Homo sapiens: one gene and its partners. The protein of the gene in region 4 purifies or fractionates together with the protein of the main gene of each other region. This does not show direct contact. Each region holds a gene or a part of one and is shown on either strand. Other genes may lie near its edges.

Evidence for each region. Proteins that work in one complex are often made in the same cells at the same time.
Region 1: the proteins of CSNK1E (region 4) and FAM199X purify together in Homo sapiens (affinity purification with mass spectrometry; 4 studies listed by BioGRID and IntAct, with this or other methods). This does not show direct contact.
Region 2: the proteins of CSNK1E (region 4) and CRY2 purify together in Homo sapiens (co-immunoprecipitation; 4 studies listed by BioGRID and IntAct, with this or other methods). This does not show direct contact.
Region 3: the proteins of CSNK1E (region 4) and FAM110B purify together in Homo sapiens (affinity purification with mass spectrometry; 4 studies listed by BioGRID and IntAct, with this or other methods). This does not show direct contact.

What each region holds. Positions count from the first base shown.
Region 1 is NC_000023.11:104,165,169-104,169,252, forward strand, and holds the start of FAM199X (protein FAM199X), read left to right. Parts: upstream 1-1,284; 5' UTR 1,285-1,617; coding exon 1,618-1,814; intron 1,815-4,084.
Region 2 is NC_000011.10:45,878,475-45,881,109, reverse strand, and holds part of CRY2 (cryptochrome-2), read right to left. Parts: intron 197-2,635; 3' UTR 1-196. UniProt on the Homo sapiens protein: Transcriptional repressor which forms a core component of the circadian clock.
Region 3 is NC_000008.11:58,001,023-58,004,522, reverse strand, and holds part of FAM110B (protein FAM110B), read right to left. Parts: intron 1-3,500. UniProt on the Homo sapiens protein: May be involved in tumor progression.
Region 4 is NC_000022.11:38,307,434-38,310,933, reverse strand, and holds part of CSNK1E (casein kinase I), read left to right. Parts: intron 1-3,500.

The sequences.
Region 1 (4,084 bases), on a different chromosome or scaffold from region 4:
TTTGAAAGCCACATACACAATGCAACACACCTTCTTGCAATCTCAATGAAAGAAAGCCGGCATGCTCAACAGTCAAACAACCAAGTAACTGAAGCAAGATAATGTATACATTTTAAAGGCACGTTGGAGAAGCTGTTTTCACTATAAGTTGCATTGGTAGGGCAAGGCACAGAGTTTAATACTGAATGGGGCTTGTTTTAGTGACAACCCCCCACTTCTCCTGCCCTCTTTCTCTTCTTCCTCCTGCCTTCTTTCATTTTTCCCCTCCTTTCCGCCTATTTAAGTTCTATGCTTTCCTGAAGGATCAATGTAGTTTCTTCATAAATATAGTTAATGCAAAGAATTGCTTTTATTGAAGAATTATGCTCTTATATGAAAATGTGCTTCCTTTTATAAAATAATATTAGGTAGTTTTAAAAATTGTCTTCTTTGGGCAAAGTAAGAAATTAGTAATCTTGGGGTTTCCTCTATTTTTTTTTAATCTTACGCATCCAAGAACAGGAATCACTTGCCCAGAATATAGAGAAGAGAGATGAGATAAACAGCAAAGTACACTATATAACACCTAACAAGTTGATTCAAGTTGAACAAGTTAAGCTCCATAATATATTTTCTACGGGAGGGAGGGGGCAAATTAGCAGGTGTGCCTTAGTCTCCTTTGGGAGTCAGGGAAGGCTTCACTGAGGAGATAACGTTTGAGCTGGAGTTTGAAGGATTAGCAGGGGAGAAATGGCAGGGCATTCCAAGCAGGGTGCCTATGAGCAAAAGGCGCAAAGCACAAAAGAGTACGACGTGTCCAGCAGCTCTGAGTAGGCGAGTGGCTGCAGCGTAGGGTTCTTGGAGTTAGGTGATCAAGGGTGAGGAAGGGACTATTTTCCCTGCTTGGACGATTTCTCCTACACCTCATTGCACGGTGCTGGGCACACACTGCAGGAGCTCAATAAATACTTGTTGAATTGGGACAGAATGAAAGAGTGCGCTGGGAACCAGGGCATCTGGATGTTTTCTCACGCACCCGCAGTGTGACCTTGGCCAAGTCCCTTTTCTGGGACTGCGGTTCCTGCTTAGTAGTCGAGTACGAGTGAGAAAGCGGAGGAGGAGGTTGGCCAGAGGCGCCTAGCCTTTCTAGCGGCCTGAATCCCTGATTCGATGCGTAGAGGGCGGGGCGGGCCGCTTGGGGCCGCGGCGGGCGGAGGTTCAGTTCCTCCTCCGGTCCAGCAGGGGGCACGGGGAGTGGCTTCCCGCCGCCCTTCCCCTCCTTGCGGGCGCCGGGCAGACTGCTGCAGTCGCAAGCGGCGAGCGCAGTGGGCGGGGCGGGCCTGGCCGGGCCGGGCGGCGGCGCTGCGCTGACGGGCTGAGTCTGGCGGCGGCGGAAGCTGCAGAGGCCACCGGGGCGCTAACTGGGTGGCCGGTGGGCCGCTGTGGCCTCGAGCAGCCTCTTCGCGCGGCCCCGCACCCCGGCAAGCAGCAGCGGGCCGCGACGCCCAGCCTGCCAGTGAGCTGCGACGGGCACACCCCGGAGCGTCGGCGACTGCGGACAGGTTAGAGTGGGGGCAGGGGCGGGCGCGGGAGCAGCCCAGGGCCAGAGAGGGAGCCCGAGCCAGGCCATCTCCAACCATGTCCGACGAGGCCTCGGCCATCACTTCCTACGAGAAGTTTCTAACCCCCGAGGAGCCCTTCCCACTCCTGGGACCTCCTCGCGGGGTGGGCACCTGCCCGAGCGAGGAGCCGGGCTGCCTGGACATCAGCGACTTCGGCTGCCAGCTGTCCTCCTGCCATCGCACCGACCCGCTCCACCGCTTCCACACCAACAGGTACGAACTGCACCTGAGGGCAGGGGTGGATTTTCCACTTCTGGTCGCCCCCCGCTCCTGATCCTTCGTCCCGGGCTGCGCTTCCAGTCGCCCCCTCCCCCACCTGCTTTCGACCAGCGCTCATTCCCGGCCTCCTTCCCTGCCCCCCCTCCCTATTTTCACCCCTGCCCTCCTATTTTCCTTTCGACCGGCGTTTTACTCTCTTTTCCTCATTCATATTCTGGCTATAGCGACTCCTCCCTTCCCTACCTTCTCCCTCCCTTGCTTCCCTTCCCTCCCCCCATCTGTACCCTACGAATCCCAAACCCCCACCCTTGATTTTTAGATACGCCCCTGTTTGCATCCATCTGCAAAAGTTTAACCCCTTCCATTTCCGGTACGCTGTAGAGGAATTTGGATGGCTCAAGATCAATCCATAGATCTTTTGAAAAGTGGCGTTGAAAGGTGGAACATTTAAAGCTAGAAGCTTCATTTTCCCTATTTTTAATCTGTCTCACAGTCCTGTTCCCCCCGCCGCCACCACCCCTACCCCATTTTTTTTTTTAGTTGAGCGCTAGGAAACTAGTCGATTCTCTCTTTTTTTCCTCCTCCTTTATTAACTGTTTGCCTTAGCGCTTTAGGCTCTGCCAAAATTGGTAAGCTTAAATCTGGAGGATTCCTTCATATGACATATCCCTTGGTTTCCTTCCCCTTTGAAGAGACAGAGTAAGGCTTAGGATGGACTGACTTACACAAATTTATTCAGAGGGTGTATCTCCTCCTAACTGATTTCAGTAGAAGGTAGTGTTCTGGAGACTTCTCTCATGCAAGCATTTACGTGTTAGATCAAATCTTGGGGGGTGGGTTGAAGACGTTCTAGATACAGCCTCAAGTTTTAACATAGGTGGATATTTGAGATACATATACAAAGGGCTGGGGGGGTGTGTGGTTAAGGCTCTAGGAGAGGGGTTCAGCTATGGAAAATACTGGAGATAAATTAAGAAATCTAGTTCTGACTTCTGATCCAAGTTTATGATGTGAGTTTGATCAAATTCTTCCATATTTTAATGTCTTTAGCATATTTCTCCCCTCCCTTCCCTTAAATCAGTCTGTAGATTGAATGAGCTTCTACCAGATACAAGGAATGTGTAAAAGATGTTTCTTACATAAATGAAAGTTATAGTCTATGGAAACAAGGTGTTATAGTTAAATAATCAGAATATCAGTATAACACATCTCAAAAGGAAGTGGCAGTAAATTTATTATGACTACTCTAAATCGTCATTGCAAAAAATGAAGAAACAGGCCCAGAAAGAAAAGATTGAGTTCAAGGTCATAAAACCTAGTCAAGCAAATCCAAGACTATTCCTTTGAAGCCAATGATTAAACTTGGAGCAGAACTAATTGATCCAGTGTTACAAATAGAACTTATGGTTTCCTAGACCAACTCACAGAAGCCTATTTAACCCCTGATGTCACTGTAATGTGAATGTAACATATTCATGAAATCAAGTGTGCTTAGGGTTATTTATGTTGAAAAATAATGTAAAAGAATACCTTTGTACATATTTGGCATTTAAGTTTTGCAGCCTTGGAGCAAGTCACATACCCAGGAAAGTTAAATAATTTCAGAATGATCCTGCTGTGATGATGAGGGCAAGGGAGTGAGGGCAGAGGCTGTGGGTAAGTACTGCCAAAACTGGGTAGAGGTGATGGGGAGTGAAGTTATGAGAATAATATGTTTCTTACAACTTGTTCTGTTCCTTCCTCCTCCCCGTTTTTTCCTGTGTTTTCTTTCCCTTAAAGACTGTGGTGAGGTCAGGACTGTTTTTCAATGGGGCAGTGAGGAGGGGAGAAGGAGGTTCTTTGCAAGCCCCAGTTTTTCCAAGTCAAGCATTTTTCCTAGTTACTGCTTGCTTTTTTTTTTTTTTTTTTTAACTTCCCTCTCCTACCCTACTTTTCGCAAGGCTTGGCATGGTGGCAGGGGTTCTAATGCTCTGTATCCTTTTCAGCAGAGAGTAGGGGAAGCAAAATTAGCGATATTCACAGCACATGATGTTTCTGTCCTAGGCTACCTTGCCTTTTAAATGTATTATCCTTCTGCAATGTTCTGCTTTCTTACCCCTCCTCAAGATGGTGCTTGAGAGGACCATAGGCTTCCAGCCATTTCTTTTCAGGGAGAAGCACACAGCTAAATCATATATCGGGCAAAGTTTAGGGAGTTCTTTTATTTTGGAGTTGTATGTGTCACTTTTTTCCTTCACATCACATCATTTGTCAATTCAGGCAAC
Region 2 (2,635 bases), on a different chromosome or scaffold from region 4:
ACATTCAGAATCATGAGTGTCAACAGATGCATGCACACACAAACAGGCACACCACTCCCTCCTCTGCACACGCGCACACACACACACATGCTCGCTCTATCTCTGCCCGGTGATCAGCTTCTCTGCAGGTTGTACTCTGCTGCTGCGGTGGCTGCTTGGGCACCCAGGCTTTGCTCACGGAGCAAGGGCTCTGCAGCTGGAAGAGAAAAACAAGTGCAAAAGGAGCATTCAGGAGGCTGCTCAGTTGCCCAGGGACACAAGCTCCTCTGGCTGCTTCTCTGGGGACATTCAGAGCGGGACCTGAGAAGAGCTGAAAGAGTGAGCTGAAAGGGCCACGGTACCTGGGGACAGGTTGTTGCTGGGATGCCACTGGGATGAGGGAATACTGCCCCTCTGAGGTGCTGATGCAGGACAAGCTCCCCACTGCAGGCCCTCCACCCAGGGCTGCGGACAGCAGAGGAGGAGGAGGACAAGGCTATGTGAGAGTCACGTGAAGCCCTGGGGGATACTTGCTCAGATATGACAAGGGCAGCTTCTGAATCAAGGCACAGCAGCTGCTGCCAGAGATGGAGAATCAGGAAAAAATGGCTGGAAGAGAAGCCCGCTGGGACCAGTAATTTTGAAGAGTAAGGCAATGACTGAGTTTACAATCAGCAGGTGAGCACATTTCCACATATAGATGAAAGCACCCTGGCACAGTGCTGGAAGATTGTGGGGGCAGGAGGGAGAGAGGAGACACAAGGATGACTCATTTTAAAGATTTATGACATCCGGAATCTGGGGCAAAGAGAAGAAACAGCTTCATCCCTGATAATAAAGGAAGGACAGAGTGCGCCTGTCACAATGCTGAGTTGTCTGTTTAAATAGGTTTAGTGTGTCTGGGAGTCTACAGAGACACACAGCGTCCCATTAAAAGTTTGTGCAGTTTAAATGTGGGTGAGGTAGACAATAAGTAGGCTTACTAAGCCTGCCGTGGGTCAGGTACTATACACTTGTGCTGTGGCTGAATTCTGTCCCCCACAAAATTCTTATGTTGAAGTCCTAACCCCCAGTACCCCAGAAGGTGACTGTATTTGGAGACAGGGTCTTTAAAGAGGTAATTAAGTTAAATGAGGTCATTAGTGTGGGCCCTAATCCAATATGACTGGTGTCCTTAAAGGAAGAGGAAATTTAGACCCAGACAGTACAGAGGGAAGACCATGTGAAGACATAGGGAGAAGATGGCTGTTTATAAGCCACAGAGAGGAGCCTCAGAAGAAAAGAAGCCAACCCTGGCAACATTTTGATCTTAGACTTCCAGCCTCCAGAACAGTGAGAGGACACATTTCTCTTGATTAAGCCACCCAGTCTGTGGTACTTTGTCATGGCAGCCTGAGCAGACTAACACAACTTGAGATCCCAGTAACCTTGAAGCTTGCCCTCCATTTTTGTAGATGAGAAAACAGAAACCAGAGAGGAGAAGGAACTTGCCCAGGACAACAGCATTCATAAGTGGCAGAGCCAAAAAAGGAAATCCACATCTGTCTGATTCTCAAATCTGTCTTTTTACTAGCAAGTAATCTCTATACGATAGTATTGCTCATTAAGACTTTTAGAGAAGAAGACTTTTAGAAGAAATTCAACATGGCAGCATGAAGACTAATATCCAACAGACATACATGTGAATTAAGCTGTTATTAGAAAAGGGAAAATGCTCTTAAAGTCAAAGACATTGGAGACAAGGATTCAGTATCATGCGATGCTTTTAAGGCCGCATGGTAAATCTGAAGCAGATTTTATCTGATGATAATTTATCTGGAAGCTGGGCAAAATAAAGAGCAGACATAAGAGTGGGTGCCTGTATAGGTCAGTACTGTGTGTCTTATTCTTTTTTTTTTTTTGAGACAGAGTTTCACTCTTAGTGCCCAGGCTGGAGTGCAATGGAGTGATCTTGGCTCACTGCAACTTCTGCCTCCCAGGTTCAAGCGATTCTCCTGCCTCAGCCTCCTGAGTAGCTGGGATTACAGGCATGTGCCACCACACCTGGCTAATTTTGTATTTTTAGTAGAGATGGGGTTTCTCCATGTTGGTCAGGCTGGTCTCTAACTCCTGACCTCAGGTGATCCACCCACTTCAGCCTCCCAAAGTGCTGGGATTACAGGAGTGAGCCACCGAGCCCGACTTTTTTTTTTTTTTTTTTTTTTTTTTTTAATAGATGGAGTCTTGTTCTGTTGCCCAGGCTAGAGTGCAGTGGCGCGATCTTGGCTCACTGCAACTTCTGCCTCCTGGGTTCAAGCAATTCTCCTGCCTTGGCCTCCCAAGTGGCTGGGATTACAGACACCTGCCACCACAACTAATTTTTGTACTTTTAGTAGAGATGGGGTTTCACCATGTTGCCCAGGCTGGTCTTGAACTCCTGATCTCAGGTGATCCGCCCCCCTCAGCCTCCCAAAGTGCTGGGATTACAGGCGTAAGCCACCGCACCTGGCTGTGTGTTTTATTCTTTAAAATGTGTGTTATTTTCAATAATTTTTCCCTTTAAGCTTGTACTATAATAACCTAGCCATTTTTTTGCTACAAATGTATGTATTATTAAGGTGTACATGTATTTATTGAAATGTGCTGATTCTGAGTATATACTCCACACACAGGGCTC
Region 3 (3,500 bases), on a different chromosome or scaffold from region 4:
TCCACCCACCTTGGCCTCCCAAAGTGCTGGGATTACAGGTATGAGCCAGTGTGCCCGGCAGTTCATGAGATTTAAGGAAAGAAGCCATCTCCATAACATAGAAGTGCAAGGTGAAGCAGCAAGTGCTGATGTAGAAGCTGCACAAGTTATCTAGAATATGGAGCTAAGATCATTGATGAAGATGGCTACAACTAGACAACAGGTTTTCAGTGTAGACAAAATGGCCTTATATTGGAAGAAGATGTCATCTAGGACAGGGGACCCCAATCCCTGGGTTTAGGAACTAGGCTGCACAGCAAGAGGTGAGTGGCAGGCAAGCAATCCATCTTCTGTCAGATCAGTGGAGGCATTAGATTCTCAAAGGAGCACGAACCTTATTGTGAACTGTGCATGCAAGGGATCTGGGTTGCGTGCTTCTTAGGAGAATCTAATGAAAAATGTAATGAGCTTGAATCATCATGAAACCATCCCCCTCCCCCACCCCATCCCCCAGTCCGTGGAAAAACTGTCTTCCACAAAACTGGTCCCTGGTGCCAAAAATGTTGGGGACTGCTGGTCAAAACTTTCATAGCTAGAGGGAGAAGTCAATGTCTGGCTTCAAAGCTTCAAAAGACAGGCTGACTCTCTCATTAGAAGCTAATGCAGTTGGTAACTTGAAGTTGAAGCCAATGCTGACTTACCATTCTGAATGTCCCAGGGCTCTTAAGAATGATACTAAGTCTACTCTCTCAGTGCTCTACACAACAAAGCCTGGATGACAGCACATCTGTTTACAGTATGATCTACTGAATATTTTAAGACCATTGTTGAGACCCACTGCTCAGGAAAAAGATTCCTTTCAAAATATTACTGCTCAATTACAATGCCCCTGGTCACCCAAAAGCTCTGATAGAGATGTACAAAGACATAAATGTTGTTTTCATGCCTGCTAACACAACATTCATTCTGCAGCACATGGATCAATGAGTAATTTCAACTTTCAAGTCTTATTACTTAAGGAATACCCTTTGTAAGGCTATAGCTGCCATAGATACTGATTGCTCTGATGTATCCAGGAAAAGTGGAAAAGTAAATCAAAAACCTTCTGGAAAGGATTCACCATTCTAAATACCATTAAGAACGGTCATGATTCATGGGAGGAGATCAAAATATTAACATTAACAGGAGTTTGGAAGAAGTTGATCCCAACTCTCATAGATGACTTTGAGAGGTTCAAGACTCCCATGGAGGAGTAATTGCAGATCCGGTGGAAATAGCAAGAGAACTAGAGTTACAAGCGGAGCCTGAAGATGTGACTGAATTGCTGCAATCTCATGATAAAACTAACAGATGAGGAGTTGCTTATTATGGATGAAAAAATAAAGACTCATTTCTTGAGATGGAATCTACTCCTGCTGAAGATGCTCTAAACACTGTTGAAAGGACAACAAACAATTTAGAATATTACATAACTTAGTTGATAAAACAGTGGCAGGGTTTGAGAAGACTGACTACAATTTTGAAAGTTCTACTATGGGGAAAGTGCTATCAAACAGCAACACATGCTCTAGAGAAATCTTTGGTGAAAGGAAGAGTCAGTTGATGCAGCAAACTTCATTACTGTCTTATTTTAAGAAACTGCCACAGCTACCCAAACATGCAGTAACTGCCACCCTGATCAGTCACCAGCCATCAACACTAAGGCAAGAACCTCCAGCAGCAGAAAGAGTATGACTTGCTGAAGGCTCAGATGATCATCAGCATTTTTTAGCAATAAAGTATTTTAATTAAGGTATGTACATTGTTTTCTTAGACAATGCTATTGCACACTTAATAGACTACAGTATAGTTTAAGCATAATTTTTATATGCACCCAGAAACCAAAAAATTCAAGTGACTCACTTTATTGTAATACTCACTTTATGGTGGTGGTCTGGAATCAAACCCACAATTTGTCTCCAAGGTATGCCAGTAGATACTGTCTTCATTGTGGATGAACTTACTGTCTTACAGAAGATACACTCACAAAACCAAGAATACACCAAAAATGCTGCCATCAATTGGTTCAATAAAGGAAGTGTTGGTCAGGAAGGAAAAAGTATGATGTTGCTAGCACTACTGAGAAAGACTTTGTAGAGAAGCAGGACTTAGAGAAGTGGTACCTGGTGTTAACACTCTTGGAGTCAGCTCATTTAAACCAACTTGGGAAGTATACTTTTACAAAAATGTTTTAACAAAACCTGACTCTGATTGTATTACAGATATGTGATTGTTAATTTTATGTGTCTACTTGATTGGTCTACTGGGGTGCCCAGATATCTTGTTAAACATTATTTCTGGCTGTACCTGTGGGTGTTTCTGGAGGAAATCAGCATTGAATTGATGGACTGAGTAAAGGAAAAGGCCCTCCCCAATGTGGGTGGGCATTATCCAACCAGTAGAAGGCCCAAATGGAACAAAAAGGTGAAGAAAGATTGAATTCTCTCTGTCTCTCTCTCTGTCTCTCTCTTTCTCTCTCTCTCTCTCTAGCTGCTTAGCTAATACATCTATATTTTCCTGACCTTATACTAGAACTTATACCATTGGTTCTCCTGGGTCTCCATCTTGGAGACAGCAGATCATGGGACTTCTCAGCCTCCATAATCATGTAAGACAATTCCTTGTAATAAATCTCTTTTTTTCTATGTATATTCTATTGGTTCTGGTTCTCTGGTTCTCTCACTAATACAAGGTATATGTGAATAATTAATACCATCTGGTAAAATGAAAAGTCCAAAGAAAATGAAGATACTTAAGTATCTCTGGCACAAAACGTATAAAGGTATTTGCTAATATGCCGGTATGCTTAATTAAAGGGCCCTGCGATTTGGTCCCTTTATGGATAACTCACAGTACCTAAACAGCAGCATGCTTCACACTGAAATTACTCAGAAAAAGGCTGGTAGAGATAACAACCAGGGATGAACAATCAAAACAGTTCGATCTTGTAACGCTAGTGAATCCTGGAATGAAAAATACCTGTAAGAAAAATCAAACAAGCAAATCAGGCCACATGAGTTAAAACACATGTCACATTGAGGCAAGGGCAGAGCCACTTCTAACTGGAAAAACAGGAAATGCTATGTGTATACTGAACACTAGGCCCCTTTCTCACACACACACACACACCTGCACACACTAGCTCCATGACAAGTGTGGCACTTTCACTGCTTCCATGGAAAATTCATTTGAAGTCAATTTCCAAATAATACAGGCAGACCACAGATATTCTCTGGCACTACCTAAAAGAACATTTCAACTACCCACAAAATATATATTTATATGACTGTACTACTCTCCACCAATAAGAGAGGAACATACAGATTCACTAAGAAGAACTAGAAAAAAAAATCTTCATTAAATTAAGGAACTAAGTTACTAGGCAGGCAGTCTATCCCCGCAAAAACTGTGGCCACTTTACCAAAACATTATAAAACGGTTTATGGTTACACACCCGGGTGCATGTTGCAGGTTGGAACAAA
Region 4 (3,500 bases):
GGGCGTCCCCGGCCAGCCTTGCTGGCTCCATTTATTCAACACTCTGGCCACATTCTTATCCCCAGTGCTCTGCCAGGGCCTGACTCCAGATGGCCTCTGCCGGTGGGGCTGGATGCGTCCTCCAAGCCCTGCTTTCCAGGATCACCCGAGGGCCAGCACACTATGGATGTGGCTTCTGCCCCTTCTCCCTCTGCATCATAAGGGGTCAGCCAAGAGAGTGGGGCCTGCTTTGTTAAGGCACTGCTGTTGCCCATGCAGGGTCCAGAGGTGGCCAAATCTGGGCCCATTTGCTAGACTTGCATCCTGGGGAACTCTCTAGACCTCTTAGAGTCTCTGGTCCTCAGCTCTGAAAGGGGTGGCGAACAGTGTTGTTCGCTGACAGGTGGTTCCAGGGGTGAGAGTTAGTGTGGGAAATACTCCAGGCCTCTGATGGGTGGGAACTGAGGTTGCCGCCGCTGCTGCTGCCGGGACGGTGGGCTTCATCCCCTGTCCTCCAGTCCACCCATGTCCCCGATTGTGTCCATGTGTCTGTGTAGGTGTCAAGTAGGCCCCCGTGTGAGGCTGGCCACGCCCGTGGCCACCTGGAACTTGCCAAGTTCCCAGCCCCTCTAGGGCCAGCCAAGTCCAAGCCCTTTTCTGTGTCCAAGTTTGTTTTGGGAACTGGCATTCCCTCCACTGTGTCTGACTCATGGGGCATCTTCTGTTCCTGAAATCGGGCAGTTCTAGCTTCTAGGCCTTCGCATGTGGGGCACCCCTGCATCTATGCTCAGCCGGCTCCCAGACACAGCCTCTGCCAGGAAGCCTCACCTGGAGTTTGAGTGGAGAAAAAACACAGGGACTTTGGGGACTAAGTTTCAAATTCTGGCTGTGCCCCATCCAGTTCTGTCAGACCTTAGGCCAGTTACCTAACGTTTCTGAACCTCAGCTTAGCGGTTGTAAGAATTAAGGGAGCTCAGAGAAAAGCCTGGCGGCTTCCTGATAGAATTTAGAGGCCACCAAGGAACTCATTGGTGGCAGGACCTGCTGCAGGGGGAGGCAGCTCTGGCAGGTTTCCAGCACTTGCGGGGGTCAGAGGCTTTGCCTAGCAGCTTGGGTCCCTGTCCCTGGGAAGTTTGTAGCATATGATCATTTGACCTTTGGTGTCTGTTTTTCCACATGTCAAACAGAAATGCAAACAGTAGGCCAGGCACAGTGGCTCACGCCTGTAATCCCAGCACTTGGGAGACCAAGGCGGGCAGATCATTTGAGGTCAGGAGTTTGAGACCAGCCCGGCCAACATGGTGAAACCCCATCTCTACTAATAATACAAAAATTAGCCAGGCGTGGTGGTGTCTGCTTGTAATCCCAGTTACTCGGGAGGCTGAGGCATGAGAATCGCTTGAACCCGGGAGGCAGAAGTTGCAGTGAGCCGAGATCATGCCACTGCACTCCAGCCCAGGCGACAAAGTGAAGCTGTCTCAAAAAAAAAAGAAAAAAGAAATACAAACAGTAGTACTCGAAGAGTGGAGTAAGGGCTCGAGGGGAAGAGGGCCCTGTCTACCACTACCTCCCCAGCACCTCTCCTCCCTGCACACATCTGCCGAATCACCAAGTGCTGCAGGCCCTGCCTCCAAAGTGTCAATCAGTTTCTGCACCCTGCCCAGGCAGGGCCACCGTCAGCTCTTGCCTGGTCTCTGTAGTGGCCTTCCCAGGCCTTCCACTACCCCTCTAGCCTCCTCCAGCCCTTTCGTATCCACCAGGTAGCCTCAACAGGGTGATTTTTGTCCCCCAGGAGACATATGTCAAGATCTGGAGACCTTTTGGTTGTTACAATTCAGGGGGAAAGGGGTGCCCTGGCATCTAGTGGGTAGAAGTCATGGGTGCTGTTAGACTGTGCAGTGCCCAGGGCAGCCCCACAACCAGGAATTCTCCAGCTCCAGTGTCAGTAGTGCCACGGTTGAGAGATCCTGTGATCACACACCTGAACATGGCCCTTGGTGCCTCAGGCTGAAGGCCAGGATCTTAGCCGGCCATTCAAGACCCTTCAGATCTCTTCCCTGCCCACCTCTTCCACTGTCTTTTTCTGCCACCCCATGGTTCCCGCTGCACCTGCTGCTGTTGGGCCTCTGCTTGTGCCGTGACCTCTCTTGTCTGTCCAGTACAGTCCTGTTTGGGAGCCAGGAGCCCTTGCAGCCTGCCCTCCCGGAGGCTCTCCTTTCCTCATAGCATGGCTTATTCCCTCTTCCCCTCCTCCCACTGGGTGGACACCGGCTCATCTCTAGCCTAGGGGCTGCACTTCCCACCAAGCCGAACATCATGGAGCATTGACTGTGTGCCAGGCACTCTTGTAAGCATGTTTGTCTGTCAGAACATCCCAATGAGCCAGATAGTGTCATCGGTTTACACATGAGGTACCTGGGGCTCAGAGGGGTGAAGTGCCTTGTCCGACGACCCCTGGCCAGGGGATGTCCGAGTCAGGATTTGGGCTCTAGTAGGTTGGCTCTGAAACTCACACTTCAACCGCTGCACTCTCCTGCCTCTCTGCTCATGGGGAAATGGAGCATGGCCAGGGGACTCTAAGGATCCTCACTGTCCCCTGGAAACCTGTGTGGCTCATCCCAGTGACGAGCATTGATGTGTCAAAAGCTCTTTACAGTTTGCAAAGTACTTTCATTCCTGTTGCTGGCTAGATTGAGTTATTCATTCTGTTTTTCTTTTTCTTTTATTAAAAATCCAAATACTCAAAAATCAAAACACAAAAATGTGTTAAGTGAAAGAAGCCAGTCACAAAAAATCACGTTGTATGATTCTGTTTGATTCTATTTCTGTGAAATGTCCAGAAAAGACAAATCCATAGAGACAGAATGTAGATTAGTTGGGGGGCAGGGGATGGAGCGAGGAGATAGGACCTTACCCCACTAAAGGCTACAGGTGTTTTCAGGGTGATGAAAATACAGCCCTCCTGGGCCAGGCACAGTGGCTCATGCCTGTAATTCCTGCACATTGGGAGGCTGAGGCAGGTGAATCACTTGAGCCCAGGAGTTGGAGACCAGCCTAGAGATGGCAAACCCTGTCTACAAAAAATACAAAAATTAGCCAGGTGTGGTGGCTTGCGCCTGTAGTCCAGCTACTCGAGAGGCTGAAGTGGGAGGCTCACTTGCGCCCCAGAGGTTGAGGCTGCAGTGAGCTGTGTTAGTGCCACTACAGTCCAGCCTGGGTGGCAGATTGAGACCCTGTCTCAAAAAGAAAAAGAAAATACAGCCCTCCACCTTCGGTACCTGTGGGGAATAGGTTCCAGGATCCCCCTCAGATACCAGAATCCTCTGATTCTCAAGTTCCTGATATAAAAAGCTGTAGTATTTGTATATAAGCTACGCGCATCCTCTGTATACTTTTTTTTGTTTTGAGACGGAGTCTCGCTGTGTCGCCAGGCTGGAGTGCAGTTGTGTGATCTCGGCTCACTGCAACCTCCGCCTCCCAGGTTCAAGAGATTCTCCTACCTCAGCCTCCTGAGAGCTGGG